5 separate regions of the Homo sapiens genome follow, and regions 1, 2, 4 and 5 are each reported to be linked to region 3. The links are microRNA targets in miRTarBase. Many come from high-throughput screens and were not tested one by one. Region 3 holds a microRNA gene; each other region holds the end of a gene's coding sequence.

What was found. The annotated mature microRNA hsa-miR-6764-5p reads UCCCAGGGUCUGGUCAGAGUUG and lies in region 3 at 3,174-3,195, shown strand. An mRNA with a match to its seed (bases 2 to 7 or 8) in the 3' UTR can be bound and repressed. Matches are read on the target gene's strand: a 7mer-m8 pairs with bases 2 to 8, a 7mer-A1 pairs with bases 2 to 7 and ends in A, and an 8mer does both.
Region 1: miRTarBase lists GPBP1 as a target of hsa-miR-6764-5p. The part of its 3' UTR that is shown has no 7-base or 8-base seed match.
Region 2: the mRNA of FAM216A is a reported target of hsa-miR-6764-5p. The part of its 3' UTR that is shown has no 7-base or 8-base seed match.
Region 4: miRTarBase lists GJB1 as a target of hsa-miR-6764-5p. Seed matches in the 3' UTR shown: 7mer-m8 at 610-616.
Region 5: miRTarBase lists BTN2A2 as a target of hsa-miR-6764-5p. Seed matches in the 3' UTR shown: 7mer-A1 at 4,397-4,403, 7mer-A1 at 4,330-4,336 and 7mer-m8 at 3,336-3,342.

What each region holds. Positions count from the first base shown.
Region 1 is chr5:57,261,345-57,267,652 of GRCh38, forward strand. It overlaps GPBP1 (GC-rich promoter binding protein 1), which reads left to right. Exons shown (of 12, transcript NM_022913.4): 12 at 1,250-3,329. The coding sequence ends at 1,408. Among named protein-coding and RNA genes, the nearest start is that of GPBP1, 90 kb to the left of the region's middle.
Region 2 is chr12:110,487,959-110,494,199 of GRCh38, reverse strand. FAM216A (family with sequence similarity 216 member A) reads right to left here. Exons shown (of 7, transcript NM_013300.3): 7 at 3,815-4,181. The coding sequence ends at 4,063. VPS29 (VPS29 retromer complex component) reads left to right here. Exons shown (of 4, transcript NM_016226.5): 3 at 969-1,204; 4 at 2,078-3,117. The coding sequence ends at 2,195. It overlaps LOC124903016 (a long non-coding RNA gene), which reads left to right and starts at 4,907. Exons shown (of 3, transcript XR_007063459.1): 1 at 4,907-5,291.
Region 3 is chr14:100,274,189-100,279,188 of GRCh38, forward strand. It overlaps MIR6764 (microRNA 6764), which reads left to right and starts at 3,169; the gene lies at 3,169-3,229. YY1 (YY1 transcription factor) reads left to right here. Exons shown (of 5, transcript NM_003403.5): 3 at 510-570; 4 at 2,302-2,460; 5 at 3,230-5,000. The coding sequence ends at 3,412. It also overlaps a transcript of SLC25A29 not described here. RefSeq lists an enhancer at 4,145-5,000.
Region 4 is chrX:71,223,992-71,230,287 of GRCh38, forward strand. GJB1 (gap junction protein beta 1) reads left to right here. Exons shown (of 2, transcript NM_000166.6): 2 at 1-1,525. The coding sequence ends at 568. Among named protein-coding and RNA genes, the nearest start is that of GJB1, 3.9 kb to the left of the region's middle.
Region 5 is chr6:26,391,696-26,397,907 of GRCh38, reverse strand. BTN2A2 (butyrophilin subfamily 2 member A2) reads right to left here. Exons shown (of 8, transcript NM_006995.5): 8 at 3,034-5,533. The coding sequence ends at 4,941. Among named protein-coding and RNA genes, the nearest start is that of BTN3A1, 7.5 kb to the left of the region's middle.

The DNA.
Region 1 (6,308 bases), not on the chromosome of region 3:
ATATGTAAGCATGGAGTGGGGGAGATTTAGGAATTTATCACGATAGGTCAGAATTGCTTTTAAAAAAAAAAAGAGGGAGGACAGGCTTTTGCTATGGTGTCCAGCTGGCCTCTAGAACTCCTGGGTGCCAGGTGATCCTCCAACCTTAGCCTCTGGAGTAACTGGGACTACAGGCAGGAACCACTGCACCTGGTTGAATTGACTTTATAGAAGTCTGCAATAGTGACTTATTTAAACTATTGGGTGTGCAATAGTTAGGAATTAGTGTAAGTGATGTCTATGGATTAGTCATTTTCCAGACCTTTTTTGTTTTGTTTTTTGTTTTTGTTTTTGGCTTTTCTGGGGGAGGAGCAAGAGTGATAAGAAGTAGAGAGTGTTAGTAGCTTCCTAAGTAACTTCATCTTTTATCCTTTTCTTGCACAAGAGTATTTCATATTCTAAAACATCTTGCTTAATGTCTCCCTAGTTACCTTTCTGAAAGAGTATTAGGGAATTTTTGTTAGAGCATCAGGAAGTTGAGATGCTTTTTTTCAAATCGATTATTTGTTTATTTAAAGAGTTGGGGTCTCACTCTGTCATCTAGGCTGGAGTGCAGTGGCTGGTCATAGCTCACTGCATCCCCAAATTTCTGGGCTCAAGCAATACTCTTGCCTCAGCTTCCTGAGCAGCTGGGGCTACTGGCTTGTGCCACTACACTGGGCTTATTTTCTGTCTTTAAATTGTTTCTAATTTGGGCCAACTATCTTTTTTCTTCTTTGATGATGTTTTGACTCAATTCTTATTTATTACCAACCTTTTAGTTATGATTTCTCATTTTCAGAAATAGAGAACTGTATTTTTTCTAGTATCTTCATCTCCGGTTAAACGAGACAATTTTGTAACTTTATATACCTCATTCTACTTTACAAACTATGAACAAAGCAGATTGGGGGGTGTATTAATTTAGGTCAGAATAATAAAAATAACAGATACAGCTTAATGGTTTCTGATTATATTCTGGTAAGTCCCTGAAGGTATTTATTACAGTTGTCACTTGAGGCAATAAAAATGTGGGAAAGTTTAGTACCTTAATCAGTGTGACAATTATTACTCACATCTACTTTGTCTGGATCCAGAATTTTTTCAGAAATATCATTACTTGTGTAGTTTTTGGGTTAGGATACAATTTTATTATATTCATGCTTATATTATTACAGTAGGTTTGTAACTCTTGAGGGATAATTTATTTATTTTGCTGTTAACATTTTAGTTACAGAAGAATGGTCTGAGAAAAAATGGTATTTTGAAAAATGGCTTGATCTGTGACTTCAAGTTTGGACCGTGGAAGAACAGCACTTTCAAACCCACAACTGAGAATGATGACACAGAGACAAGTAGCAGTGATACATCAGATGACGACGATGTGTGAAGGATTTCCTAACAGCTTTAGAAATCTTAGTGTGATACATCTCTCATACAGTTTGGGGTGAATTGTAAAAATGAAGAACTATAATTTATGTAGTGAAATACCCCATTAGAAGAGGATTTTTTGGGGGACTTCAATATGAAGAAAACCAAGAATGTTTTGTTGGGCTGTGTTGAACATTATTTCTTTGTAAATGAATGTTGTAGGAATGAGGACTTGGGTTGGTCCAACATTGACTTTCTTCATCACTGCAACATTTCTCTGACTAGCAATGTGACGATGTAACAAATGAGATTTTCTCATTTAATAATAAAAAATTGTGTAATGTTTTGCAAAGCTTCTGTCTTAAAATGTCCAGGTCTTAAGAAAAAAGGCAGCTTACACTGTTTTGCTTGCAGAGTCATATCTTTTTCGTACAATGGAAATCCTCAAGTCCACTTTGTGCGGTCTCCCTCTCCTTCCCCCAAAAAACAACAACAACAAAACAAAAACCAAAAAGGAAAATGTAGCATGTTGGCTAAAACTGGAGCAAAGTGCACTAAAACAATTTCCTGAACTCACCTGTTGTACTATTCACCTTTTAAACCATAAATTGCTCTTTAGCCATTTGTAGTGCAGTAAATGTTACAGGAAAAGACTTGGCACATTTTCTTCCAAATTTTAAGAGGTGATTTTCAAAAGCTTTATTGGGGTATGTTGTCAGACCAGGGTTTTCAGAGTTGATGGAAAAGAGTCTTGTGAGAAAACTTATTTTGATAAATTATTACACACGCAGAAAAACTGATCACACTGACTGGATCTGTCCACGACATGGAAAATAAACTGGATTTTCAGAATATTGTTGTTTTCTGTAGTGTTCAAGGTATTGTTTCTAAACATAAACATACTCTAAACATGCTTTATTCACTTGTTAAAGTCATACTTTTAAAAGTAATACCTTACTAAAGATGGTGATTACTTTTCCGAGGTCAGAAAAGGAAAGCTAAGCGTTTTCATTATCAAATACACAAGCTTATTAAATGAATGACTGTTAACTACTTTATTTTCATTTGCACATTAATTTTGGAATTGTTTCTGTTTTGCTGCTGACGGAAATACTATTTTGGCTCTGTGTATATTTGTATTTTGATTTTTCTGGTTTGTTTACCCCCATTTGCTTTTAGCTCCCCCTTATGTTTAAATATATTCTAACTTATGTAAAGAGCATAATCTTAGAGCAAAAATACTTGAGGTTTTATGTCAGATCTAATCTTAAGTGTTTGTTGTTTTTTAAAAAGTGTTTTCTCAGATGGCTGCAGTGTTTTTGCTATTTCTGCATAAATACCCTACCTGGACTCCCCAGTTTTCACCAGAAACTGTTATTTTTTTTTGTTGTTGTTCCCACTGAGACTGATGGTGATGGGGAAATTAAAAACAACACACTAGCACACTCCCACAAAACTTGAGGAAGAGTTAGAATGGTAATAAAATATTAAATAGACCTTATACTTAAAATAAGGTTTCACTATATAATTTGTCACAATTCAATCTAATCAGCTAAAGTTAAATGTAGTTAGAATTAGCCACAGGAGAATGTAAAGCATGCTTTGACGAAGCTATCGGTAACACATATTGAATGTCTTTGAGACTCTTAGATTGTACTATTTGCTTAATAGATTAATGAAATTTATCAGATACAACCTGTATTTCCAAAAACAAGCTAGAAGGAACCTGAGGAATGTGGTTTACATTTGAGATCCACCTTACTGTGTTTTCTACTTTCAGAAAAGATTCTGTAGTTTTGGTTTTTGGCATCTTTCTTATACTCAGTTTTTTCTGCCTTAATTCCCATTTACCAGCAGTTAACTCATGTTTATTGTGCTTTCATGCATTGTGATATGGAATGTGTTTAGTAATTTACTCCTTATAAATATGGTAAAGTACAGTGGTATGGTTATTCTATGCATTAAGTTAATGACATTAATAAGCTTGGTTATGAGGGGTTGGAGCCATACATGTAATTTAAGAGAACAGTTAAAAGTGTAACATAGTTTTAGCTTGGTGTCTAAATAATGGGCAGCTGATAAAACAGCTTGGACCATATTGTTTTAAAGAGAGCCTACAAGCACAGAAACTAGTTATAGATCTAATGTGGAATTGCTGAACTCAGAACTAGGCCATGGAAGTCTGAAAAGCAAATATGGCTGTTTCAAACTCATTTTTTTGGCAGCTTTTTTATTTTTAACACTTTATTGAGGTATAAATTGACTTGAACACACAGGTAAAACATACAGTTTACAGTGTTTTGACCTACAACTAAGTGAACATAATCTATTATTCCCCCGAATTTCTTGGTTCCTTTTAAGTCCCTGTCACTAATTCTCCACCCCCCTCTCATTTTATTTTGGTATAAAATGTAATTAATGAGCAAAATTCTTAAGGTAATGACTTAAAATAGCATTTCAAAAACTATTTGCTTGATTTTAGTATAAGGATTAGAATATTTCTGCAGATAATTTCTATTGAAATTGTTAATCTAAAATCAGCTTGACTTAATCAGATTTATATTAACAGAATTCAGTATGTTAAAGGATCTGGTTCCCCCAAAATACTTTGTCCTTTTTTGCTAGTGTTTATGTATACTGTTAGAATGTGGTTATATAAACCTTTTAAATTTAGGAATCTGTTAAATAACTTGTTTTAACACCCCATCCGTCATCATCCCTAATCTGATACTGGAGTCTAAATACATGCTCCATAATCATGCAAACTAAGTTGAATCTAGATGATGAGGGTAGACTGGGTGCGGTAGCTCATACCTGTAATCCCAGGACTTTGGGAGGCCAAGGTCAGCAGATCACCTGAGGTCAGGAGTTAGAGACCAGCCTGGGCCAACGTGGTGAAACCCTGTCTCTACTTAAAAAAAAAAAAATACAAAAATTAGCCGGGCGTGGGGGCATACACCTGTAATTCCAGCTACTCATAGGATATTGAGGCAGGAGAATCGCTTGAACCCAGGAGTCGGAGGTTGCAGTGAGTTGAGATCGTGCCATTGTGCTCCAGCCTGGGCAACAGAGTGAGACTACGTCTCAAAATAAAAAAAAAATGATAACTAGGGTAGAAAGGATACACACTTGTGAAATATTTCTATAAAGTGAGATTTTTATTTTGGCTTACACAATAAGGGATGTGTTACTAGGGCTTTTAAATGATTATCACTAAGAGTTGGATATTTTAACTTTTAGATAGTTAAGTTTCCTGAGGTTATAAAAGTTATTTGGCTGTTAGGGGAACGACAGGACATATCAAGCAATAGAAAAATCCGTGAAAGCCTCCAGATGCCGCAGAGATGCTTCAGATTCTGGTTTTTGTTTTGCTACTTAATATTTCCTTTCTTTAGGCAGGGCTGAATGCTTGCACTTAAAACGATGGGACTCAGAGGACAGCTGTGATTGTTTTAATATTTAACTATGGGGCTGGGCATGGTGGCTCACGCCTGTAATCCCAGCACTTTGGGAGGCTGAGGCGGGAGGATCACCTGAGGTCAGGAGTTCAAGACCACCCTGGCCAACATGGTGAAACCCCATCTGACCCAGTCTGTACTAAAAATACAAAAATTAGCTGGGTGTGGTGGTGCATGCCTCTGATCCCAGCTACTTGGGAGGCTGAGACAGGAGAATTGCTTGAACCTGGGAGGCGGAGGCCATAAGCCATGATTGTACCACTGCACTCCAGCCTGGGTGACAGCGAGACTCTTGATATATATAACTGTATAACTATATATATATAACTATATAACTACATATATAACTATATAAAAACTATAAAACTATGTAAAACTATATATAAGACTATATATATATAAAACTATATATATATAGTTATGGGACACGTGGACCTGAAACATTCGTAGTTTAGGACTTGAGAATGTGTTGTAATTAAGAGGTTTTGTAATTGTGAATTTTTGTTCAGTTGTACAGTTAACTTTAAGTTCATTCTGCCTACCCATATGGATTCGTTTTGTAGAACTACTCTGGCATAGTGATTGAAGGTACAATGTATTATATCATTAGGTCTGGTTGAAGGACACTGCTGAAGCATGTTCCATGCAGCAGTGTCCTAACTTGCAATATGTAAGAGCATGTGTAGTGGTGGGGCCCAAACTTATCTACACCATTGGTATCATTGGGGAGCTTCCCCAATGTGTCCACCATCCCCCACCAACACCCCAGATTGTGGTTTAATTAGACTGGGGCGTGGCCTGGGCTTTAGAATATTTAAAAATCCTGCCCCCAAAACCCATTCTTTTTTTTTATTTTTTGAGACAGAGCCTTACTCTGTCACCCAGGTTGGAGTGTAAGTGGCGTGATCTTGGCTCAGTGCAACCTCTGTCTCCTGGGTTTGAGTGATTCTCATGTCTCAGCCTCCCAAGTAGCTGGGGTTACAGGTGCGCACCACCATGCCCGGCTAAATTTCATATTTTTAGAGATGGAATTTCGCCACGTTGGACAGGTTGGTCTCGAACTCCTGACCTCAAGTGATCCTCCTGCCTATGCCTCCCATAGTGCTGGGATTTACAGGCATGAGACACCGCGTCCAGCAACCAGTTATAATGTATTAACATACAGTATGGTGGAAGTAGTCACACCTGGGTTTGAAACTACATTTTTTTTCCCCCTTTTTATTTGTGCCTTTTTTTATTTTTTATTTTTTGAAGACAGAGTTTTGCTCTGTCACCCAGGCTAGAGTGCAGTGGCATGATGTCTCCTCAATGCAACTTCTGCTTTGTAGGTTCAAGCAATTCTCATGCTTCAGCCTTTCAAGTAGTTGGGATTATAGGAGTGACCACCATGCCCAGCTAAGTTTTGTACTTTTAGTAGAGACAGGGTTTTGCCATGTTGGCCAGGTTGGTCTCAAACTTGGC
Region 2 (6,241 bases), not on the chromosome of region 3:
TTTGTGTTATTTAATGGGGTTCCTTAAACCAAACTGAAGGGGCATACTGTCTTTTTATTGTATTTTAAAAAGAGTTTGGATAAATTTAAAGGTGGCATGGAGGTGAAAGACGGGGAGATGAAAGGACAAACAACCTCTTTGCCTGTTTCATCATCCATAAAGTGGGGATCATAATAGAACCTTCTAGGATTGTTTGTATTAATTAAGTTGATATTTGTAAAACCCCTACAGTAGTGCCTGGCTCATACTAAGTACTATGTAAGTGTTAGCTCTCATTATTTTAAGCTATCTATAAAAGTATTAAGGCTACATTAAGCTATAATTTGAACACACCCTAACTTACATGCCTTAGGTAAAGGAAAATCACAAGTTTGGGGGGAATAATTATTTACAGCATGCGCAAAAGAACCCATATTCTATAGGAATAAACACAATAAAGGGGTTGCATGATAAATTCCAGTTTATATTGAGTAAGTTATGTTTTAAAATATAGATGCAGCCTTGGAGACCAAGAAGAAATAAAATATTTATAAATGTGGGGTGGGCACAGTGGCTCAGGCCTGTAATCCTAGCGCTTTGGGAGGCCAAGGCAGGTGGATCATTTGAGGTTAGGAGTTTGAAACCAGCCTGGCCAACATGGTGAGACTCCGTCTCTACTAAAAATACAAAAAAATTAGGCGGGCGTGGTGGCGGGTGCCTGTAATCCCAGCTACTTGGGAGGCTGAGACAGGAGAATTGCTTGAACCTGGCAGGCGGAGGTTACAGTGAGCCAAGATGGTACCACTGCACTCCAGCCTGGGCAACATAGCAACACTCTGTCTCAAAAAAAAAAAAAAATGTATAAATGTGTGTGTTGTGGGGTACTACATCAAAACATCCATAGGAGATTGAATATTTAAGGAAACTGATTTTTTTAAACATCAGTATCTCTAAAATACATATTTTCTTACGTCTTTTTCTTATGTTAGAATCTGAATTATCCAGAACAGAAAGTTGTGACTGTTGGACAGTTCAAAATTGGTCTGATCCATGGACATCAAGTTATTCCATGGGGAGATATGGCCAGCTTAGCCCTGTTGCAGAGGCAATTTGATGTGGACATTCTTATCTCGGGACACACACACAAATTTGAAGCATTTGAGCATGAAAATAAATTCTACATTAATCCAGGTTCTGCCACTGGGGCATATAATGCCTTGGAAACGTGAGTAGTATAGAATTTGGGAATTTGGGGGCTTTAGTAAAATAATTGCATGTGTGACATTTCGTAAAAGAAATGTGGCTGGGCACAGTGGCTCATGCCTGTAATACCAGCACTTCGGGAGACCAGGGCAGGTTGCTTGAGCCCAGGAGTTTGAGACCAGCCTAGACAATATGGTGAGACCCTGTCTCTACAAAAAAATTTTAAAAATTAGCTGGGTGTGGTGGTGCATGCCTGTGATCCCAGCTACACAGGAGGCTGAGGTGGGATGATCACTTGAGCCTAGGAGGTTGAGACTGCAGTGAGCCACGTTTGAGGCTCTGTACTCCAGCCAGGGTGACAGAAGGAGACTCAATAAATAAATAAATAAATAAATAAATAAATAAATAAATAAATAAAATAAAAATAAATGTGACTTTTTTTTTTTTTGAGACAGAGTCTTGCTCTGTCACCTAGGCTGGAGTGTAGTGTTGCAATCTTGGCTCACTGCAACCTCTGTCTCCCGGGTTCAAGTGATTCTTGTGCCTCAGTCTCCCAAGTAGCCGGGATTATAGGTACCCGCCACCACGCCTGGCTAATTCTTGTATTTTTAGTAGAGATGGGGTTTCACCATGTTAGCCAGGCTGGTATTGAACTCCTGACCTCAGGTGATCCACCCACCTCAGCCTCCCAAAGTGCTGGGATTACAGGCGTAAGCCACTGTGCCCAGCCACATGTGACCATTTAAATAAATCTAGCCATTTTGGCAATCTTTTGGTAACTGTTCATGTGATATGTAACAGATTTCTCTGAATCCAAATAGTCATCTTAAATTGAAATTTATAGTGCTGCTGCTTTGTGCTACAAAACACTGACATTATTTATTTTTTCTTCTAGAAACATTATTCCATCATTTGTGTTGATGGATATCCAGGCTTCTACAGTGGTCACCTATGTGTATCAGCTAATTGGAGATGATGTGAAAGTAGAACGAATCGAATACAAAAAACCTTAAAGCCAGGCCTGTCTTGATGATTTTTGGTTTTTTTTCATTGTCCTGTTGAAATCAAGTAATTAAACATTTAAGAGCCACAAAATTGTATCACTTTTATAATATTTTGCAGTAAAATATAATACCATCTTCTCTGTTAATACATAATTGCTCCAAGCTTCCTGTAAACTATAAGAATATATTTAGTTTACAGTATATGGATTCTATGAAAAAATGTCCACAACACAGTAATTGGTCACTTGTTAAGAAAAATTTATCCTTGTAAGTATCTTCAAAGTTGATATTTGGAACTTTATTCCAAAAGTAGTGCATGTGGAGAAAGAATCTAGACTTTCTTGTATACATTTTTCTCTTCTCCAGTAATAAACAATTACCTTTCATTTATACTTTGATAACCTGTATTTAATTTAAAAAAAAACATAAAAATGAGGAACCAAGTGAAACTACGGATATAAATATTAAAGTGGACGAGATGACCTTTCAGAGCTCTTCTCTTACATTGTGTCATAATGTTGGACTCAGATTTTATTTGCTAAATAATATACCATGCCGACATTAACAGTGATTCTTCAAACTGTTGCTATTTCCATTTTTCAAGGTTTAATAAAAGTTTTAAAAATACAAGTTTAGGGGCCGGGCACAGTGGCTCACACCCTAATCCCAACACTTTGGGAGGCTGAGGCAGGTGGATCACCTGAGGTCAGGAGTTCAAGACCAGCCTGGCCAACATGGTGAAACCCTGTCTGTACTAAAAATACAAAATTAGCCAGCATGGTGCTACATGCCTGTATTCCCAGCTACTCGGGAGGCTGAGGCAGTAGAATCACTTGAATCCTGGAGTTGGAGGTTGCAGTGAGCCGAGATCACACCATTGCACTCCAGCCTGGTCAACAAGAGCATAACTCCGTCTCAAAAAAAAACAAAACAAAACAAAAAAAAAACAAATTTAGCAAGGAAGCATACTAGAGTAATATATAACGTAAAGAATCCTCTTGTTAGTGTAACTACTCCCAACCTAATCTAGTCCGAGAGTCCCAAGTTATTTATGTGGTAATTTCATAAGATAGGGAAAATGTGTATTTACATTTTAAAGTTGTATTCAAATAGCAAATATTTATTGATCACCTACTTTGCAAGTCAGAGCATCATCTCTGTCAAATGCTATTCTGTATCTGGATATTTCCAAGCTTCCCTTAGCCCAATCAAAAAAATACTTGTAGGATATTCTTTTTTTTTTGAGACGGAGTCTCGCTCTGTTGCCAGGCTGGAGTGCAGTGGTGTGATCTCGGTTCACTGCAACCTCCGCCTCCCAGGTTCAAGCAATTCTAATTCTCCTGCCTCAATCTCCCAAGTAGCTGGGACTATAGGCACACACCAACATGCCCAGCTAATTTTTGTATTTTCAGTAGAGACGGGGGTTTCACCATGTTGGTCAGGCTGGTCTCGAACTCGTGACCTCATGATCCACCCGCCTCGGCCTCCCAAAGTGCTGGGATTACAGGCATGAGCCACTGCGCCTGGCCCTTGTAGGATATTCTAATATTGCTGTTTTAGGACTTACTATGAACACAGAAAGAAGAAATACGATGCATTTGTCAGATTTAAAGAAAAGTAATTCAATATTGAATGCAAGAAAAGTTTTAATTGTATCTAGCTAGAAGTACAAGTATATGTTACATGTAAATTTTCTTACATAACTATCATTGGTACATGGAACTACATCAGACCAATTACATTGTTTTAAGTTTCTGAACAAACCAAAATTACTTAATGATTTAATAAATAACAATACCATCCTAAACATACAGGACACAACTCACAACCCCTTACCCTCACCTTTGGCACGAATTCAATACACGAGACAAGACTGTCAAGTTAACATCAGATGTTCTCCCTGTTCTTCAATTGACATTGATTGCATAAAATTATTTAGTAAATCTTCTTCCTTTTTTTCTTCACTCATGTGTGATTCAGAATCATCTGAAGAAACTGAAGGAAAAATAAGAATTTACAATTGTCTGTTTTGGAAATAAAGCTCTAAGTACAACTTTCAAAATGACCTGGCTTATTAATAAGCCTGTAGTAAAGACAAATTGCCTGCAATTTTCAAGGCTCTTAGTCACCTCATCCTTCCCCCAAGTTTCTTACTCTTTAAGATACACAATACTGTATTCTAGCCAAGTTACTGTACAGCAAATTCTCTTGTTACTAAGTCCTGTTTTACCATTGATTTTCAAAATCTTTCAGTTGGGGGAAATTAAAGTGGTCAGTTACATCTTCAGAATCTCTGCATTTTCATTTAGTTCCTTCTCATCTCTTCTATTGGGGACCACAGGGACTCCCCCCCCTACAGTTTCCGCTAACTGTACCTTTTGGAACCTGACTTACCCCTTCTCTCCTGCCCTTTCCCTCATTTCTTGGATAGGCATGGTACGATATTTACAGCAAAGCTGGCTAACACTGTCATACAGTGATGGGATATCAATTCAGAAGGCCTAACTTCCCTACTTCAGTTTTTTTTTTTTTTGGAGACTAGAGTGCAGTGGCGCGATCTTGGCTCACTGTAAGCTCCGCCTCCCAGGTTCACGCCATTCTCCTGCCTCAGCCTCCCGAGTAGCTGGGATTACAGGCATGTGCCACCACGCCCGGCTGATTTTGTATTTTTAGTAGAGACAGGGTTTCTCCATGTTGGTCAGGCTGCTCTCGAACTCCTGACCTCAGGTGATCTGCCAGCCTTGGCCTCCCAAAGTGCTGAGATTACAGGCATGAGCCACTGCGCCTGGCCAACTTCCCTACTTCTTACCCACCTCCCTACTTCACTATGCTGATAACTAGGAAACTACTTAACATGATTTAACATTATCAGTTCTGAGGAATACTTCTGATCATTCGGTCTGTCTTCCCTTTTTCATTTTGCAGTATTTTGTTCTTGTGGTAGAAGGATCCTTTATGCTGATCCTTCCAAAGTCTGGATTTGTCTGAGTTGCAGCTGTAAAATTTTGATAATATCACCTGCTTGGCTTGCCTCCACTGTTTTGTTGAATATCAAACAAAATGGTATACAGAAGTCCCTCCTTATCCACAGTCTTGCTTTCCAAGGTACAGTATAAGATATTTTGAGAGAGACCACATTCACATAACTTTTATTACAGTATATTGTTATAAAATTGTTCTATTATTTATTGTTGTTAATCTCTTTATGTGCCTAATTTATAAATTAAAACTTTATCATAGATATGTGTTTTTTAGGAAATAACAAAGTATAGGGTTCAGTAGTATCCAAGATTTCAGCCATCCACTGGGGGTCTTGGAACATATTCCCCATGGATAAGAAGGGCCTACTATAAGAGATGTAGCACTTTGTAAACTAATAGATGCTATACAAAATATGTTCATCCAAAAATAGCACTAACTCATAAAAGAAGTGCTGTTGCTTGAGAAGGTCATGTTTGTGGTTCTGGGTTCAGACGAATTCATTCTCTACTAAGTCTTTGACCTTGATATTGTAAGTATCTTTAGCATTAGAAATACCTTGAATCTTACTCTTTTGAGCAGTATGTTCTTTTTTTCTTTTCTTTTCTTTTTTTTTTTTTTTTTGAGATGGAGTCTCACTCTGTCACCCAGGCTGGAGTACAGTGGCGCAATCTCAGCTCACTCCAACCTCCGCCTCCCAGGTTCAATCGATTCTCCTGCCTCAGTCTCCCAAGTAGCTGGGATTACAGGCGCCTGCCATCACGCCCAGCTAAGTTTTGTATTTTTAATAGAGATGGGAGTTTCGCCATGTTGGCCAGGCGGGTCTCGAACTCTTGACCTCAGGTGATCTGCCTGACTCGGCCTCCCAAAGTGCTGGGATTACAGGCGTGAGCCGTGGCGCCTGGCCCAGTATGTTCTTTTAATTGCAAGCATAAACTATATTTTATGTTTGGTTTTTTATTTGTGACAATAAAAGCAAATCATATTCTAAATTTGTTAATATCTTCATAATAGAAATGAAATTGTATTTGGTATAGTATTTTTAAGCATAAGATCTTAAAAAATGAATATTGTTA
Region 3 (5,000 bases):
CATTCGTGTCAGTACTAATTGGACCCATTTCGTGTATAGAGATGGATATTTTAGGACACTCCTGTGTTCACCGCTTCTTTTTCATAAGGCACCTTCATCATCGCAGCAGCTGCCTTTGGAAATCTTCCCTTGCCTCTCACAAGGAGATTCATCTGATTGTCTGAGTTGATTTTTTGTGTTTTTTTAAAGGGTTTGGAGTTAAGAACAGGTATGTGAATCACACAGATCATAGTGCCATTCTAAGCTGCACCAGCTTATTAGCTATGAGACTGTAGGCGGCAACTCGATGTTTCTAGCCTGAGCATCCTTATCTGTAAGATGGGAAGAGTGCTTCACAGTCATTGGTACTTAGTGAATGCAAGTTGTCTCATCCTTTCTGCTTCATGGAAATGTATCATAATTTTAGTTTGGGTACCTATAAGGAAAGCATTTTAGGGACTATATGATTTATGCCAGTTGAGTCTACCCACTCCTACAAATCTGTCTGTCTCTCTTTTTCTTTTGATAAGAATGAAGCCAAGAAAAATTAAAGAAGATGATGCTCCAAGAACAATAGCTTGCCCTCATAAAGTAAGTAATGCTAGAGGGAGAGTGTTCATTAAACTGTTGATGAAGTTTTAGAGAGTTATAAGAAATTTGCACTTTTGTTTCTGCTTGTGATAATTTAAATGAAGCAAGGAATTAGAATCTTCGGTTTCTAAATCCAAGAGATGAAGTTTTGTTATTTAGTAAAGGCAACTTTTTAAATACTGTTAAATGGGATGACTGCAGGGAGCCGTTGCTTGATTACTGTGTGTTGACTCTACTGTTAGCGTTTCATTTCTTTTTGGATTATATTAACAAGTCCGTCTTAAGATCCTGGGTTGTGTCTCACCTATTGACCTTTATGGGAATGTAGGCTTGTAACTGAAATTTGAAAATTATTTTGGATGTTGCTAAAATAAGCCAAATAAAGACTTAATAATTGTGTGTGATTAGAGAGGCACTTAATTGTTTTCAAATGTAGTTAGTCTTTAAAATAAAAGGATAACCTGAAAAGTACTTTTGAGATATTTGTTGGGGGCTATTTTCAAACTTAATTGGATATGAGACTAACAGAAAAATCAAGTATCACATAGGTACAGAGAACAAAGTAGGAGAGATTGAGTGGAATAAAGAATGTTAAAAATGAACAATCGGAGCAGGCTACATTTAGTTTCACGGTCTCTTCCCTGTAATGACTGTGCACTAGCAAGTCCTTCCTGTTCTTTGTCAGCGTTCTTGATGTGGCGATTTGAAATGTAAACGTATCTCCATTAGGGCCGAAATAACAAGCATTTGAAAACAGTTAGGCTGGAAGTGCCTATGCCATCCCTTTAGCTTCTCTGAAGTTTTCTTTATAATGGACACATAATACTTGTACATATTTATGGGGTACCGTGTGATGTTTCAATGCATGTATACATTGTGTACCAGTTAAATTTTTTAAATTTCCATTTTCTAAATGGAAATTCAACCTAGGGGTAAAGGCGGAAAAACTGGGGCTTCCCTCTCCCTTCTGCCTGTGAGCTGTCTAGTGACTTGTGCTGTCCTTCTGTCATGCTGTCTTATCATTTCCCCATTCACTCCATTACTGGGCAACAACTGCAGAAGAAATTGTTGAGGACATGCTTCTCGAGCGCCACACATCCATCTGCCTTTCCCGCCCTGCACTGGTATCAATTTGCCTGCTTCTTCCTTTTCCTAGTGTCTCACAAAATAAATTTCTTCTGTAGTTGCCATTCCTTGGAGACCCTCTTGCTTCTTTCTCTGTCAAGAAGGGGAAAGAGGCAAAGAGAGAAGAGGGAACAGTAGGCGATGGAGAATGACAGTCCATTGTTGCAGCACAGAATATGGGGCCACCAAAGGTAGTGGTGGACTACCGTCATTTTAACTCCATTTGCTTAGCAGTGCTTCTGTTACTTCATTTTGGGGGACATAGTCGGGTGAGGTGGCTGTGGTAGAGCTGGAAGCCAGGGTGTTGGGTTCTATTCCCAGTTTGGCTACTACTAGTAGTGTGACCTTGGGCAAGTCTACTTAAAGACATCTCTAAGCCTCAGTTTCCTCATCTGTAAAACTAGGGTTTGCATTGAATGATGACTTTTTCAGCTGTCTGCTTTTTGTCTTAAATGATATTAATGTTCTACCGTAATACTAAGTAAAATTAAAATGGGGGGTTGGGGAGGTGGTTTTGTTTTAATATGTCAGTAAAGGCTGTTAAATGGTTGAATCCTTTCTAACAGTTTGCAATGTGAACTTCTAAGCTGCTTTCTCTGTTTTAAGGGCTGCACAAAGATGTTCAGGGATAACTCGGCCATGAGAAAACATCTGCACACCCACGGTCCCAGAGTCCACGTCTGTGCAGAATGTGGCAAAGCTTTTGTTGAGAGTTCAAAACTAAAACGACACCAACTGGTTCATACTGGAGAGAAGCCCTTTCAGGTAGAGCCAGTTCCCTCTCTTCCCCACACTGCCTTGCCTGTCTGAACACTGCAAGTGTAGGTGGTGTGGTGATGAGGCAGGAGGCGCCAGCCCAGAGACTCAGGGTCTTATTACTCCTTGGTGAGAAACAAAACTTCTCCTGGGGAGTCGCTTAGAAGGGTTGCCGGGGCTCTGGACATCCTTGTCTATACTCTGTGGTACTGGGTACGCAATGTATTGGTGTTGATGGAGTACACTTTATGGCAGGAGGAGAACAGGATTGAAGAGCATACCTAAAACTCAATTTCTACTTCATTCATTACAGGATTGAAGTAATTTATTTTTGGTAGTTAATAGTATAATTACTAACTGATAAAGTTTCTAGAGTGTAAGTATAGGTAATACTTTAGCCCATAAATAAGTGAAAGAACTAGCAGTGCAGCTAGTAAATCTAACGTGGTTCTTTTTTGACAACTGACACCAGAACCCTTAATCATTTGTATTTTACTGTTGGAAATGTTTACAGCAGCACTAGGACTCTAGCCTGCATTTAGGAAGACTTGCCATTTTGCCAAGTGTTTTAAACAGTTCGTGAGGGCTCTCCTTGGGTTTTCGGGGTTGTCCAACCTGCCTGCTGATTCTAGACTATATCCACAAAGTTCACCCAGGGCAGGAATGAAAAGTGTTTGGTAAAATAAATAGGCTGTTCTCTAGCAAAGCAGTGAGCTCCTGACTCCCAGGGTCTGGTCAGAGTTGCTGAGTGGGTTGATCTCTGGTCTTTCCTTGACAGTGCACGTTCGAAGGCTGTGGGAAACGCTTTTCACTGGACTTCAATTTGCGCACACATGTGCGAATCCATACCGGAGACAGGCCCTATGTGTGCCCCTTCGATGGTTGTAATAAGAAGTTTGCTCAGTCAACTAACCTGAAATCTCACATCTTAACACATGCTAAGGCCAAAAACAACCAGTGAAAAGAAGAGAGAAGACCCTTCTCGACCACGGGAAGCATCTTCCAGAAGTGTGATTGGGAATAAATATGCCTCTCCTTTGTATATTATTTCTAGGAAGAATTTTAAAAATGAATCCTACACACCTAAGGGACATGTTTTGATAAAGTAGTAAAAATTAAAAAAAAAAAACTTTACTAAGATGACATTGCTAAGATGCTCTATCTTGCTCTGTAATCTCGTTTCAAAAACACAGTGTTTTTGTAAAGTGTGGTCCCAACAGGAGGACAATTCATGAACTTCGCATCAAAAGACAATTCTTTATACAACAGTGCTAAAAATGGGACTTCTTTTCACATTCTTATAAATATGAAGCTCACCTGTTGCTTACAATTTTTTTAATTTTGTATTTTCCAAGTGTGCATATTGTACACTTTTTTGGGGATATGCTTAGTAATGCTACGTGTGATTTTTCTGGAGGTTGATAACTTTGCTTGCAGTAGATTTTCTTTAAAAGAATGGGCAGTTACATGCATACTTCAAAAGTATTTTCCTGTAAAAAAAAAAAAGTTATATAGGTTTTGTTTGCTATCTTAATTTTGGTTGTATTCTTTGATGTTAACACATTTTGTATAATTGTATCGTATAGCTGTATTGAATCATGTAGTATCAAATATTAGATGTGATTTAATAGTGTTAATCAATTTAAACCCATTTTAGTCACTTTTTTTTTCCAAAAAAATACTGCCAGATGCTGATGTTCAGTGTAATTTCTTTGCCTGTTCAGTTACAGAAAGTGGTGCTCAGTTGTAGAATGTATTGTACCTTTTAACACCTGATGTGTACATCCCATGTAACAGAAAGGGCAACAATAAAATAGCAATCCTAAAGCAAGAATATGGCAGAACAAGATCTGTAAGCACAGTCTTATTTTCTTTTGTTGTCCAGAATACTTATAATTCTTGAGCCTCCCAGAAATTGGAAGCTAAATAAAGCAACTCAAGTTTCCTTTATTTTGCACTCAATTACAGTGATTATTGATGAAAGCGATGCATGGATATTTTAATACTTCCTACATGTCCTGACTTCTGAAAGAGAGTAGGTAACAGGCATCCCGAGTTCAGGAACTACCTCAGAACACCCCAGGCCAGGTTGGTCATAGGCTGTGATTTTAGCCCCCGGCAAGTGTGAGTGAAGCATCTGTACCACCGCGCAGGCTGAGCGCCTGCGCAGGGTAAGGTGCCACCTGGCAGTGGGGCACACAGAGGGAAGACCAGGCCTGTCCATCAGCCGGCTGCCTTCAGAGGCAGCTCCAGCAGGACCTTGGCTTGTCTGACAGGAAATGCTTGTGGTCGTTGGTTATTTGGTTTGAGAGCCCTTGTTCCTCCATCTAGTGGAGTCCTTATTAAATGCTAGCAATGTGGCAATTGAGTGCCAGTAGCTTAATTTCATGTTTCTAAATGGACACTGGGTGCAAATCGGCAAGGTGATTAGATTATTAGAAAATTCTGCTCAATGAGTACCTCTCACATTGTAACCTCTTAAATGTACGATTATAATGTTGGATCTTAGGTCAAATAACAGACTTGAGAATACTTTATAAACTGCCATG
Region 4 (6,296 bases), not on the chromosome of region 3:
GGCTCACCAGCAACACATAGAGAAGAAAATGCTACGGCTTGAGGGCCATGGGGACCCCCTACACCTGGAGGAGGTGAAGAGGCACAAGGTCCACATCTCAGGGACACTGTGGTGGACCTATGTCATCAGCGTGGTGTTCCGGCTGTTGTTTGAGGCCGTCTTCATGTATGTCTTTTATCTGCTCTACCCTGGCTATGCCATGGTGCGGCTGGTCAAGTGCGACGTCTACCCCTGCCCCAACACAGTGGACTGCTTCGTGTCCCGCCCCACCGAGAAAACCGTCTTCACCGTCTTCATGCTAGCTGCCTCTGGCATCTGCATCATCCTCAATGTGGCCGAGGTGGTGTACCTCATCATCCGGGCCTGTGCCCGCCGAGCCCAGCGCCGCTCCAATCCACCTTCCCGCAAGGGCTCGGGCTTCGGCCACCGCCTCTCACCTGAATACAAGCAGAATGAGATCAACAAGCTGCTGAGTGAGCAGGATGGCTCCCTGAAAGACATACTGCGCCGCAGCCCTGGCACCGGGGCTGGGCTGGCTGAAAAGAGCGACCGCTGCTCGGCCTGCTGATGCCACATACCAGGCAACCTCCCATCCCACCCCCGACCCTGCCCTGGGCGAGCCCCTCCTTCTCCCCTGCCGGTGCACAGGCCTCTGCCTGCTGGGGATTACTCGATCAAAACCTTCCTTCCCTGGCTACTTCCCTTCCTCCCGGGGCCTTCCTTTTGAGGAGCTGGAGGGGTGGGGAGCTAGAGGCCACCTATGCCAGTGCTCAAGGTTACTGGGAGTGTGGGCTGCCCTTGTTGCCTGCACCCTTCCCTCTTCCCTCTCCCTCTCTCTGGGACCACTGGGTACAAGAGATGGGATGCTCCGACAGCGTCTCCAATTATGAAACTAATCTTAACCCTGTGCTGTCAGATACCCTGTTTCTGGAGTCACATCAGTGAGGAGGGATGTGGGTAAGAGGAGCAGAGGGCAGGGGTGCTGTGGACATGTGGGTGGAGAAGGGAGGGTGGCCAGCACTAGTAAAGGAGGAATAGTGCTTGCTGGCCACAAGGAAAAGGAGGAGGTGTCTGGGGTGAGGGAGTTAGGGAGAGAGAAGCAGGCAGATAAGTTGGAGCAGGGGTTGGTCAAGGCCACCTCTGCCTCTAGTCCCCAAGGCCTCTCTCTGCCTGAAATGTTACACATTAAACAGGATTTTACAGTAAATGAAGAGGTGGCTTGTGTGTTTGTCAAGTTCTTTCTCCTGCAACCTCTGACCTCCCCCAGGATGAGCTGGCCTTGGTTTTTTACTGATTAAGAAAGGAACAGGGCAAAAGAAGTAGTTACTTGAGTAGCTGAAGCTGCAAATGAGGAAATCACTGTACTTCTGGGCCGCAGAGCCAGCCCCGGAGCCATTCCTCCCTGTTGCTTTTGTTGTTGTGGTTCTTGTCTTTTTCATTGTCTAATAACAGCTTTATTGGGATTTAGTTTACATACCTCCTTCCTCTGATTTTGAAAAGATTAAAAATGACAACTCCCTCTGAAGAGACAAGAAATGATTGGGAAATTTCTCCTGCCCCAGAGAGTGGCACAATTCCCTGGGTACCTCGGTGAGAGCCCCTCCCCCGCACATCTGGAGACCTATCTCCTTACTCCCTCCAAACTCAGCATCCCCTACAAGCTGATGTCCCACAGTCCACCTGTTGGGTTGCACGATGACCCTGACCCCTTTCAGCTGGACAGAGCCCCTAATTTCATCCTCTTTCCCAGTTTCCTTCTCTCAGGAATCAATGCTTCCCACTCCAGAGATGCCTCCACACAGGTCAAACATTTCATAGCAGCAGTTTCCTCACCAGCATCACCCTCCCCTGTCAGCTGTGGTAGGAAATGCCCCAGGCTGAGACTTGGAAAAGCTGCGCTGGAGTCCTGATGCTGTCACTTAGTAGCGGGGCATTCCCTTCCCCGAACCTCAGCTTCCTTATGAGCAAACGAGAACTGGCCCAGCACATCTCTCAGCTCCCTTCAACACTCTGTGCTTCTGGGATTCCTGAAAGATTTCCCCAAGTAACAGTGCATTATCTTCCCCCAGCCTCACAGGGGTTTCCTTAGAGTCACTGCCCCCACAAATAGCCTCTCAGAGTAAAAGTTTCCCCCATGGCAAGTTTGCCTCCTCAGCTTCCTTACCTCCGAACAGGAGAAATTATTTGCCACTCCCTCTCAGAGTATGTGGACTCCATGTAGGAAGTGCTGGATATCAGAAAGGGAGAGAAAATCAGACACAATCTCATGTGAATTGTTCTCCCTTGAGACAGTTTTTCCTCTTTGGAGAGAAAGCATGGAAGTTTTCTTTATTTGAGATTTCTCCTTTAGAAAAAAAAAAAAGGAAGACTGGATGTGGTGGCTCATGCCTGTAGTCCCAGCACTTTGGAAGGCCAAGGGGAGAGAATCACTTGAGCCCATGAGTTTGAGACCAGTCTGAGCAACATAGAGAGACCCCATCTCTACAAAAAAAATAAAATAAAACAATTAGTCAGGTGTGGTGGCATGTGCCTGTAGTCCCAAGCTATTTCGGATGCTGAGGTGGGAGGATAACTCGAGCCCAGGAGGAGGTTGAGGCTGCAGTCAGCTGTGATCACGCCACTGCACTCCAGCCCGGGCCAGAGAGTGAGACCTTGTCAAGAAAGAAACAAAGAAAGAAAAGGAAGGAAGGAAGGAAGGGAGGGAGGGAGAGAGGGAGGGAGGGAGGGAAGGAAATGAGACCTTTAGAGGCCGAAGCAAGAGGATTGCATGAGGCCAGGAGTTCAAGACTAGCCTGGACAGCATAGCAAGATCCTATCTCTATTTTTTTTTTTTTTGAGACGGAGTCTCGCTCTGTCACCCAGGCTGGAGTACAGTGGCGCGATCTCGGCTCACTGCAAGCTCCACCTCCCGGGTTCACGCTGTTCTCCTGCCTCAGCCTCCCGAGTAGCTGGGACAATAGGCGCCCGCCACCACGCCCGGCTAATTTTTTTTTGTATTTTTAGTAGAGACGGGGTTTCACTGTGTTAGCCAGGATGGTCTCAATCTCCTGACCTCGTGATCTGCCCGCCTCGGCCTCCCAAAGAGCTGGGATTACAGGTGTGAGCAACCGCGCCCGGCCTCCCATCTCTATTTTTAAAAAATTGAAAGAAAGAAAGGAGAGAGTAAGTATTCCTTTCCACCACACTTAGTAATCCCTGAGAGAGAGCTTCCTCTCCCTTAAAAGAGGAACATTCCTTTCCTACAAGAAATTTCCTTTCCCCTTAGAAACTGACATTATGTTCCATCAGAGGAGAGGTCCCCACCCCCTCACGGTGAGAGAGATTCCTTTTCTTATCGAAATCCATCCTTTTCACCCACAACAATACAACAAACACATCCCCTCTCCATACAACATGCCATCAGGAGAAAGATTTTCTTTTTAAAATTCCATCCTGGTCCTGGTCGGAAGCAGGGAACCTCATGCCCTCTCCACATTGAGAAATGCTAACCCCCACCATCACATCAGAAATGTAGTTTCTCTTCAAAGATTCTACCAATCCCCCTTGGAAAGAGGCTCCAACTCTATATCAAGGCTTTCCTCTCCAGGGGGCAGTGGTGGGACAATAAAGCTATCAGGCTGGGTGTTACAGCCCAAGTGGGGGACACAGGATTCTTGGGTCCCATGAACCAGGTAGGAACAGGCCCAAGGAACCTTGAGGGGAGCTGGTGGACACAATGTCTCAGGGAGGTAGGAGGCAGAGTTAGACTGACTCCAAGACTGACTTTTCAAATCAGGCTCTGTCACAAGAGTATAAGAGAGAGACACAGAGGCAAATGAGGCATGCTCTCTGCCACGCAGTAGAAATTCAATGTGCTGAGTGACCTGGGTTATGAAGAGGACACTGGAATTAGGAGACCTCGTTCTCCACTGATGAGCTCTGTCCCCTTGGACACGTGATATTTACCCTCTCCAGGTCTGTTTCCTCATCTCCAATAGAGAGTTAATAATAACCTCTCTACCTCTTTCACAGAACTTTTTTGAGAATCAGACAAGATGTGTTCAAAAGCTGGTTATGAACTAACGGTAAAGTAAGGTAAGATAGTATCATAAGCACTGAGACCATGGCCTTACGACATGCTAGAATTCTCAATGAGCCAGAAAGGAGTGAGGCTGGTTCAGGTAGGCTGAAGCTAGTTAAAACAATTTGGCAATAATAGTGTTGGCTCCCCCAGGGAGTGGACACCAGTCCAAACAGCAAAGTCCAAGAGAGGTTGCAAACCTGAGCATGATTCATTTAAGGGTCAATATTCAAGGGGTCTGATCAGGGGGCAGAAAAGGCATAGTAACAGGAAGCTCTTGCATGCTGTATCTCATGGAACTGGTCCTTTTAGGAATGTCTATGATCTTTTAGAGGTGTCTATGCACAGAGATGCCAGGAGCTGGGGGGCAAAGGAACAGAGGCAGATGAACTAGGAGAGTAATCAAGGCCTCCAGCCAGCTGAGTTGGGGTTTGAAAGCAAGCTGTGGTATCCATAGAGAATTGGCATGGCAACCACAAACTGGTTCAGATGTTCAATCAGATAGCCTGGGTGCACACAGTGGGGGCTAGAGGGGAATGCTTGCTCCATTTACTGATTCCAAAGTACTTAAATGCCAGACCTGGCCTATGGTGCAGAAGGGGCTACACAATCGTACCAAGCTAAGCTCCTGTTGATTCCTGGAGTAGGCCAGGGAGAATGTACAGGGTCAAATGGAAAATGGATTGGGACATTCCAGCAAGGGGCAAATAAAACAGACAAAAAATACCCTACAGATATGACAGGAATTGGCTGGGCACAGTGGCTGTTGCCTGTAATCCCAGCAATTTGGGAAGCCAAAGCAGGCAGATCACTTGAAGCCAGGAGTTCGAGACCATCCTGGCCAACATGGTGAAACACTGTCTCTACTAAAAATACAAAAATTAGCCAGGCGTGGTGGCACATGCCCATAGTCCCAGCTACTCAGGAGGCTGAGGTGGGAGAATTGCTTGAATCCGGGAGGTGGAGGTTGCAGTGAGCCGAGATCGCGCCACTGCACTCCAGCCTGAGTGACAGAGTGAGTGAGACTCCATCACAAAAAAAAAAAAAAAAAAAAAAAAAAGCCAGGCACGGTGGCTCACGCCTGTAATCCCAGCACTTTGGGAGGCCGAGGCAGGTGGATCACTTGAGGTCAGGAGTTTGAGACCAGCCTGGCCAACATGGTGAAACCCCGTCTCTACCAAAAATACAAAAATTAGCCCCGTGTGGTGGCGCACGCCTGTAATCTCAGCTACTTGGGAGGCTGAGGCATAAGAATCGCTTGAACCTGGGAGGCAGAGGTTGCAATGAGCCGAGATCATGCCACTGCACTCCAGCCTGGGTGACAGAGCGACTCTGTCTCAAAAAAAAAAAAAAGGTATGACGGGGGTGATACCTTCAAACTTGTGTGTTTGGAAGGTCAGCCAGCAGCTGCATGGAGACTGGATTGGGGATTGAAGACTGAGACAGATTGACCAGGTACTGCCAGGTGCAGTGGCACACCTGTGGTCCCACCTACTTGGGAGGCTGAGGTGGAAGGATTCCTTGAACCCAAGACTTTGAGACCAGTCTGGTCAACATAGTGAGACCCTGTCTCTAAAAAAAAAGACCAGTTATGGAGCTGTTGCAATAGCCCAAGTGGCGCCTGTAGGACTAGGACAGTGGCAGAGGAATATGAAGAGGAGACAGGTGTGAGAGACATTTTGGATGTAGAACCTACAACAGGACTTCATGTCTGAGTTGTGGGGTGTGGAAGAGCCAAAGGTAATTTGAGGTTTCCTTTCCCTCCTTTGACTGGAAAGCTCCTAATCATTCAAAACTCATCTCAAACGTCGTTTCCTCTGTGAAGCCATCAACTCTTCTTTCCCCGCTGATCAAGTCCCTTGGAGAGACTCTCCAATTCAGACCTCCACTCTGAATTCCCACAATATGACTGTGGTGTATGTGATAAGAGCGCTTATCACATTATATGGTGCCAGGTGCGGTGACTCACACTTGTAATCCTAGCTGCTCAAGAAGATGAGGTGGGAGGATTGCTTGGAGACCAGCCTGGACTACACAGTGAGACCCCATCTCTAAAAAATACCACCACCACCACCACCACCACACACACACAAAAAAGAAAAGCACACAGGCCAGGCACAGTGGCTCACGCCTGTAATCCCAGCACTTTGGGAGGCTGAAGCAGGCGGATCTGTTGAGGCCAGGAGTTCAAGACCAGCCTGGTCAATATGGCAAAACCCTGTCTCTATTAAAAATA
Region 5 (6,212 bases), not on the chromosome of region 3:
CAGTGTTGTCCATAAAGGAAGGACAGAAGTGTATAATGACAAGCGAGGCCCAGTGTCTCACAGCTATAATCCCAGCACTGTGGGAGGCTAAGGCAGGAGGATCGCTTGAGCCCAGGAGATCAAGGCAGCAGTCAGCGATGATCACACCACTGAACTCTAGCCTGTGTGACAGAGCAAGATCCTGTCTCTCTAAAAAGGAAAGCACGGGGGTGGGAGGGGAAAATAGAAATGTGTAACGGATTTAATGGTTGGGAAACCATTAGTAACTGATAGAAACAATGCTTATGGGCTGAGAGTAGTGGCTCTTGCCTGTAATGTAGCACTTTAGGAGGCTGAGGCGGGCAGTTCACCTAAGGTCAGGAGTTAGAGACCAGTCAGGCCAACGTGGTGAAACCCCGCTTTACTAAAAGTACAAAAATTAGCTGGGCATGGTGGCACAGGCCTGTAATCCCAGCTACTTGGGAGGCTGAGTCAGGGGAATTGCTTGAATCTAGGAGGCAGAAGTTGCAGTGAGCCGACATCATGCTGCTGCACTCCAGCCTGGACAACAGAGCAAGAGTCTATCTCAAAAAAAAAAGAAAGAAAGAAAGAAAGAAAAAAACAAACAATGTTTATGGTGTGGTACAGCAGTGGCCATCATGATGGCAGACAGTCCCTGATGGCCATGTATGTGTTCTCTTTCTGAGACTTTGCTTGTATGAAAGTAGAGACCTAGAGAGAGGTTAGCATGTTTGTATTGCCCAGGGAAAGAGGAAGCAGGGCAGTTACAATGGGAGAACATTGAGCTTCTTATATGATGTAGCCGATAGAGTCTGGAGTGGACCCCTTATGATTACTCCTCTTGCAGTTTGCAGCCTGTACTTTCCCTGAGTGTGAGCTGAACCTGTGGCTTGCTGCTAACCAATAAAATATGGTAAAACTGATGGGATGTCCCTTCCATGACTACACTATGTAGTGTAAGACTCTCTCTTGCTAGCTGACCCACTCTAGAGGCTCTGTCTTCCTAGTTGGCTATGAAGAGGAAAGTAGTCATCATGGGGATCCACACAGCAGGGAGCTGAGGAGGCCTGTAGGAGCTGAGAGCAACCTCCAGCTTCAGCCTGCAAGGAGTTGGGGCCCTCAGTCCTACAACTGTAAAGAAATGAACTCTGTTAACAACCTGAGTGATCTGAAAAGAGGACTCTCCCACAGTCGAGACTCTAGATGAGGCTACAGCCTGGCCAACACCTTGACTTTTGCTCTGTGAAGTTCTGAGCAGAGGAGCTCACTAAGTTCTGCCTGGACTTCTGACCCACAGAAACTGAAATGATAAATGTGTGCTGTTTTAAACCACTAAGTTTGTGGTAATTTGTTATGCAGCAATAGATCACTAATGCATTAAAGTGAAACAGGCATGACAACAAACATGCAGATAAAGAAGATAAAGAGAAAAACTTGTGTTTCCAGCCCTGACCCGTTGCCTGGACTACACATTTATTACTGACCTGCCTACTCTGCATCTCCACGGGGATCTCTAGTAAGCTCCTCAACCTGAACGTATCCAAAACTGACCTTGGATTCTATGCTGGCTCCTCCCCTGGCCTCCAAAACCTGCTTCTCCCTCAGTTTCCTCATCTCAGTAAGTGGCAACTCCATTTGTACCATTTCTTAGGACCAAAACCTTGTGGTCACCCTTGATGCCCTCCTTTTTCATACCCCACCTGTAAGTTTATCAGCAAAGCCTTTTTACTCTGTCTTGAAAATAAATCCAGCATCATAACATTTTCATGGCTCCTCCCTGGTACAAGTCATCTGCATCTTTCCCCTGGATCACTGCAGTAGCTCCCAGCTGGGTCTTCAGGCCTCCATCCACCACCCCTACCCACAGCCCATCTCAGTCTAGCATGTGAAGTAACTTCTTAAAATGTAAGTAAGTCCAGTCCTTTTTCTGCTTTAACCTTCCTGTGGCTCCCCTCTGAGAGGTAAAGCCCAGGTCAGCATGATGACTTTCAAGGCCATATATGATCTGGCCCTCAACCCCCTCTGGCCTTGTCACCTCCTAATCTCCTGATCACCCTGTGTGCTCTGCCCACCCCAGCCTCATTGCTGTTCTTCACACAAACCACAGTGCTTCTGCCTCTGTGCTCTGGCACTGCTGTTCTCTCAACTTAGAATGCTTTTCTCCCAGGTATTCTGTGCCTCACTCCCATTGCTCATTACCACTCTTTTAGAAATTGTGATTTCCTATATTCCTTCCCCTGATTTATTTATCTCCTGAGCAGTTATCATCATCCAACACACCATATCTGTTACTACTTATTTTGTTTTCTGTCTTCTACAATGATAAGGAATGGGACTTTACACTTTGTGCACTTCTCTGCCCCCAGTACCAAGAACACTGATTGGCATGTAGTTAGTACTCATTGATTTTTGTTGAATGAATGAATGAACTGAACACAGAAGTCCTAAGGGAAACTGGAGAGTGAGAGTCCAGGGTGTGGATGGAGAATTAGCCTGACACAGGGGAAAGGATACCTGCTTCTTAAATCAGAGAAAATAGATGAGGAGGGGCAGGAGCAGGTCAGGGCAGCAGCAGGAAGTTTGGAATCTCCTCCTTCTATTTTCTCTCTGAGGTTGAGGGAGCCCTAATGAATGTCATTAGTGTCCTTCCAAAAGAGACCCTACAGATCTATCTTTATCCTTTGGCATGTGAACAAGTCTATGGGCCCTCACCACACACCATTATGCTGGGGTGTTGATCTTAGATTTCCCAGCCTGCAGAATTGCAAGAAATAAATTTCTGTTGTTTACAAACCATTCAGTCTTGGTGATATTTTTGTTATAGCTGCCCACATAGACTAAGACATACACATTAACACAAACAACCTTGCTTTCCATCTTTACAAATCAGGTATTGAAAAAATCACTCCTGATTCTTTCAATATTGTGTCTATTTGTAACTGCAGTAATAAAATTTTTGATTACTTAAATTTTTTCAGTCCAACTGGATTACTGAATTGTCTAAAACCTAAAATACTACCATTCAAGCTAGAATTTTAGATGCCTCATTTTATTAGTCAGGGTTCTCCAGAGAGACAAAATCAATATGATATAGATATAGATATAGGCATAGATATAGATGCACATACAGATATAGATGTAGATACAGATCTATGAGCAGGCATTTATTAAGGAGATTGGCTCATGTGATTATGGAGGCTAAGAAATCGCACAACAGCTCATCTGTAGGCTGGAGACCCTGGGATGCTGGTAGCATGGCTCAGTTTAAGTCTGAAAGCCTCAGAACCAGGGAAGCTGATTGTGTAACTCTCAGTCCAAAGCCAAAGGCCTGAGAACCCAGGGCCTCCTGGTACAAGTCCTGAAGTTCAAAGGCCGGAGAGCCAGGAGTTCTGATGTCCAAGGGCAGAAGAAGAAGAGTGTCTCAGCTCCAGAGGAGAGAAGAATTTGCCTTTCCTCTGCCTTTTTGTTGTATTGGGCACCCAGCCAACAGAAGGAGAGAATTTCCCACTGACTCACTTGCCAATCTCTTCTGGAAACACACTCACAGACACACCCAGAAATAATGTTGTACCAGCTGTCTAGGTATTCCTTAATCCAGTCAGGTTGACATCTAAAATTAACCAGCACATGGATTAACTTCCAGGATCCACTATTCTAGTTTCAAAATGTGGTTTTGGGATTCCTAGAGAGAACTCTGATGTACTCTTAAGGAGTCCCCAGTGTTAATAATATTTTCACAATAATAATAATGAAACATTAATCGTTTTTCATCTCATTCTCTCAGTAGTGTGCAGTAAAGTTTTTTTGAGCTAACATGACCTATGATATACCAATAGGTTTAATACAAAGGCAGATATGATAATACAAATATCTCTTATTAAGCCAGACATGAGATCTGGAAAAAGTTAACCAGTGTCACACTTTTTGTTTTTTTATTTGGACACAATAGATTGCTTTTTCACAAAACATCCTATCTACATTAACCTATAACTGATTTATTAATGCTATTTTAACATAAATTAAAAGATAACATTTTAAATTTTTGTTTCAATGTCAAATGTCATAAATATTAACCCAAATAAACAAAAGCTCTTTAAAGTCCTCAATAACTTCTAAGTGTCTAAAAACATAATTAGATCAGGAAGTTTGAAGCCACTGGTGTCCCCATTGAACCTGAATGCTGACGTAGACCTGGTCCAGTACTGCCCTGCTCGACCAGGACCTCAAACCTCAACCACACTCAGGGACTAAGTACTGACCCCTTGTTTATTGCAGGGACATCTGAGCCAAACCACATCCACATGAGTCCATGTTCTTCATTCATCTTCATCCCAGGTCCAGGCCTGTGGGTGTGTGCTGTGGAAATCCTGGGGTTGGGTGGAAATGAGCCATCATCTCCCAGGACCCTTTAGCTCTTATGGTGGGACTTAGCCATCCTTACAACCTTGGTCCCTCCCAGCTCTCTGGTTCCACTTCCTCTATCTCTGATCTGCATATCTGGTTCCCTCTCCCTTCTGGTGGTCCTGTGGATTCCTCTCTCCTCTCTCATCCTGGTGAACCCTGTTGGCCTCATTCCAAGTCCACAGCATCTGGTGCCAACTGGCATATTGGGCTTAATGTGGTTATCCTGATTTTAAACAGTAGGTTCGCTGCCCAACAGCTTCTCTCACTTTCTTTTTGACTGGGAGCTATGAAACAACTAGTTCCCTATGCCTGGATCCCATCCCATAATTACAAGCAAAGGAACTACTAAAGCCACAGACTAGTGAGGAGGAGAAAACTGGGGCAGAGGGCTGGAGTGGGTGTGAAAAAGGCAGCTGGAAGATGTTCTCTTACGTGACCAGAGGGGAGGAGGGCGTGTCTTTCATTAGGGGGGTTGTGCGGTGGCTGCTGAGATGGCCAGGGCTTATCTGCATGGCTGTGAGTCCAAGGAATTGATTCTATAGGCTCTGGTGGGTCCCCACTCTGTGAAGTTTCAGGCCCTCTTCAGGCACCATGACCCCACTGGCTCCTGTGAGTGCAGGGCAGATGAAGATGGGGCTGTCATCAGACCCTAACCTGAAGAAGGGCCTCACAGGCACAGTAAAGGCTGAACGGGGACATGTGTAGATGTGCGATCTGTCCCTCATGTTGTAGAAGGAGACATCTCCAGCTTCATAGTCCAGGAAGACGCCCACCCGGCAAAGGGACTCCTTCAAAGGGAGAATCCTCTCAGGGGAGGACAGGGCCCGGTATTGGTTTCCAAACATCTCCAGGGTCCAGAAGCCATTCTGAGGAATCAGCAGGACCTCCCCTTTCCTCTCAACACTGTGTCTGCAGACCCCCACAGTCCACACCATCACGTTTTCCACCTCCACCTCCCAGTAATGTTTCCCTGAGGCGAAGCTCTCCCATCCCAGGACACAAGGCTGACTGTCGAATCTCTCTGGGTTGTCAGGCACTCTCTGCCTGTAGGGGCCCCGCCTCACACTTCTCCGGTCCTCTGACAGGAAGAGCTCGGGATGAGCGGTGTCTGGATCCAGGACCACATCAGCTGCAGAGGAAGTCTCAGGTTTATGCCTGGGGTCTCAGGAACCCTGGGGATTGTGTGGTTCCTGGTCCCCAGAGAAGTCTCAGAAAGCTGAAGGGGGTTCCCCATGTAGTGGCCGTTTCCATGAAGGTCCCCTGATCCCAGGCAGCTCATACCCTGAGAATTACGGAAGCTGCACTTCTATCTCTCCAGAGACAGAAGCAGTGCCCCCAGGTTGAGAAGAATTGTGGCTCTATGAAATCCAGAGAGTTTAGGAAATGAGCCAAAATTAATGGTTCCCAGTTTTTCTCAGCATTCTAAGATCTGATCCCTTTTCTATTCAAGATATATGATCTCTGGGACTTTCTTTAGTTAGAAACTTTCCAACTTGGCTTAAACCATCACAGAAGCTTTATCTCCTATTGTTCCCCCACATACCTCTCAATGGATCAATTAAGTGAGTCTATCATTACACACTGTCCTAGGTGGTGAAGGACCTCTTCGTTGGTCCTATAGGTTGTTTTAATAGGTGACAACTGATTTAAGTGGCTGACAAGGGCACACTTCAAAGGATAAAGAAGGAGAATAAATGTGTGCAAAAGAAAACCTGGTGCCTGAGGGATGTGTGGGCAAAGTTAGGGAAGAAATACTTCAATCCAGTTTTGCTTTAACAATATGAGTCTGACATCTACCAGGATTACTT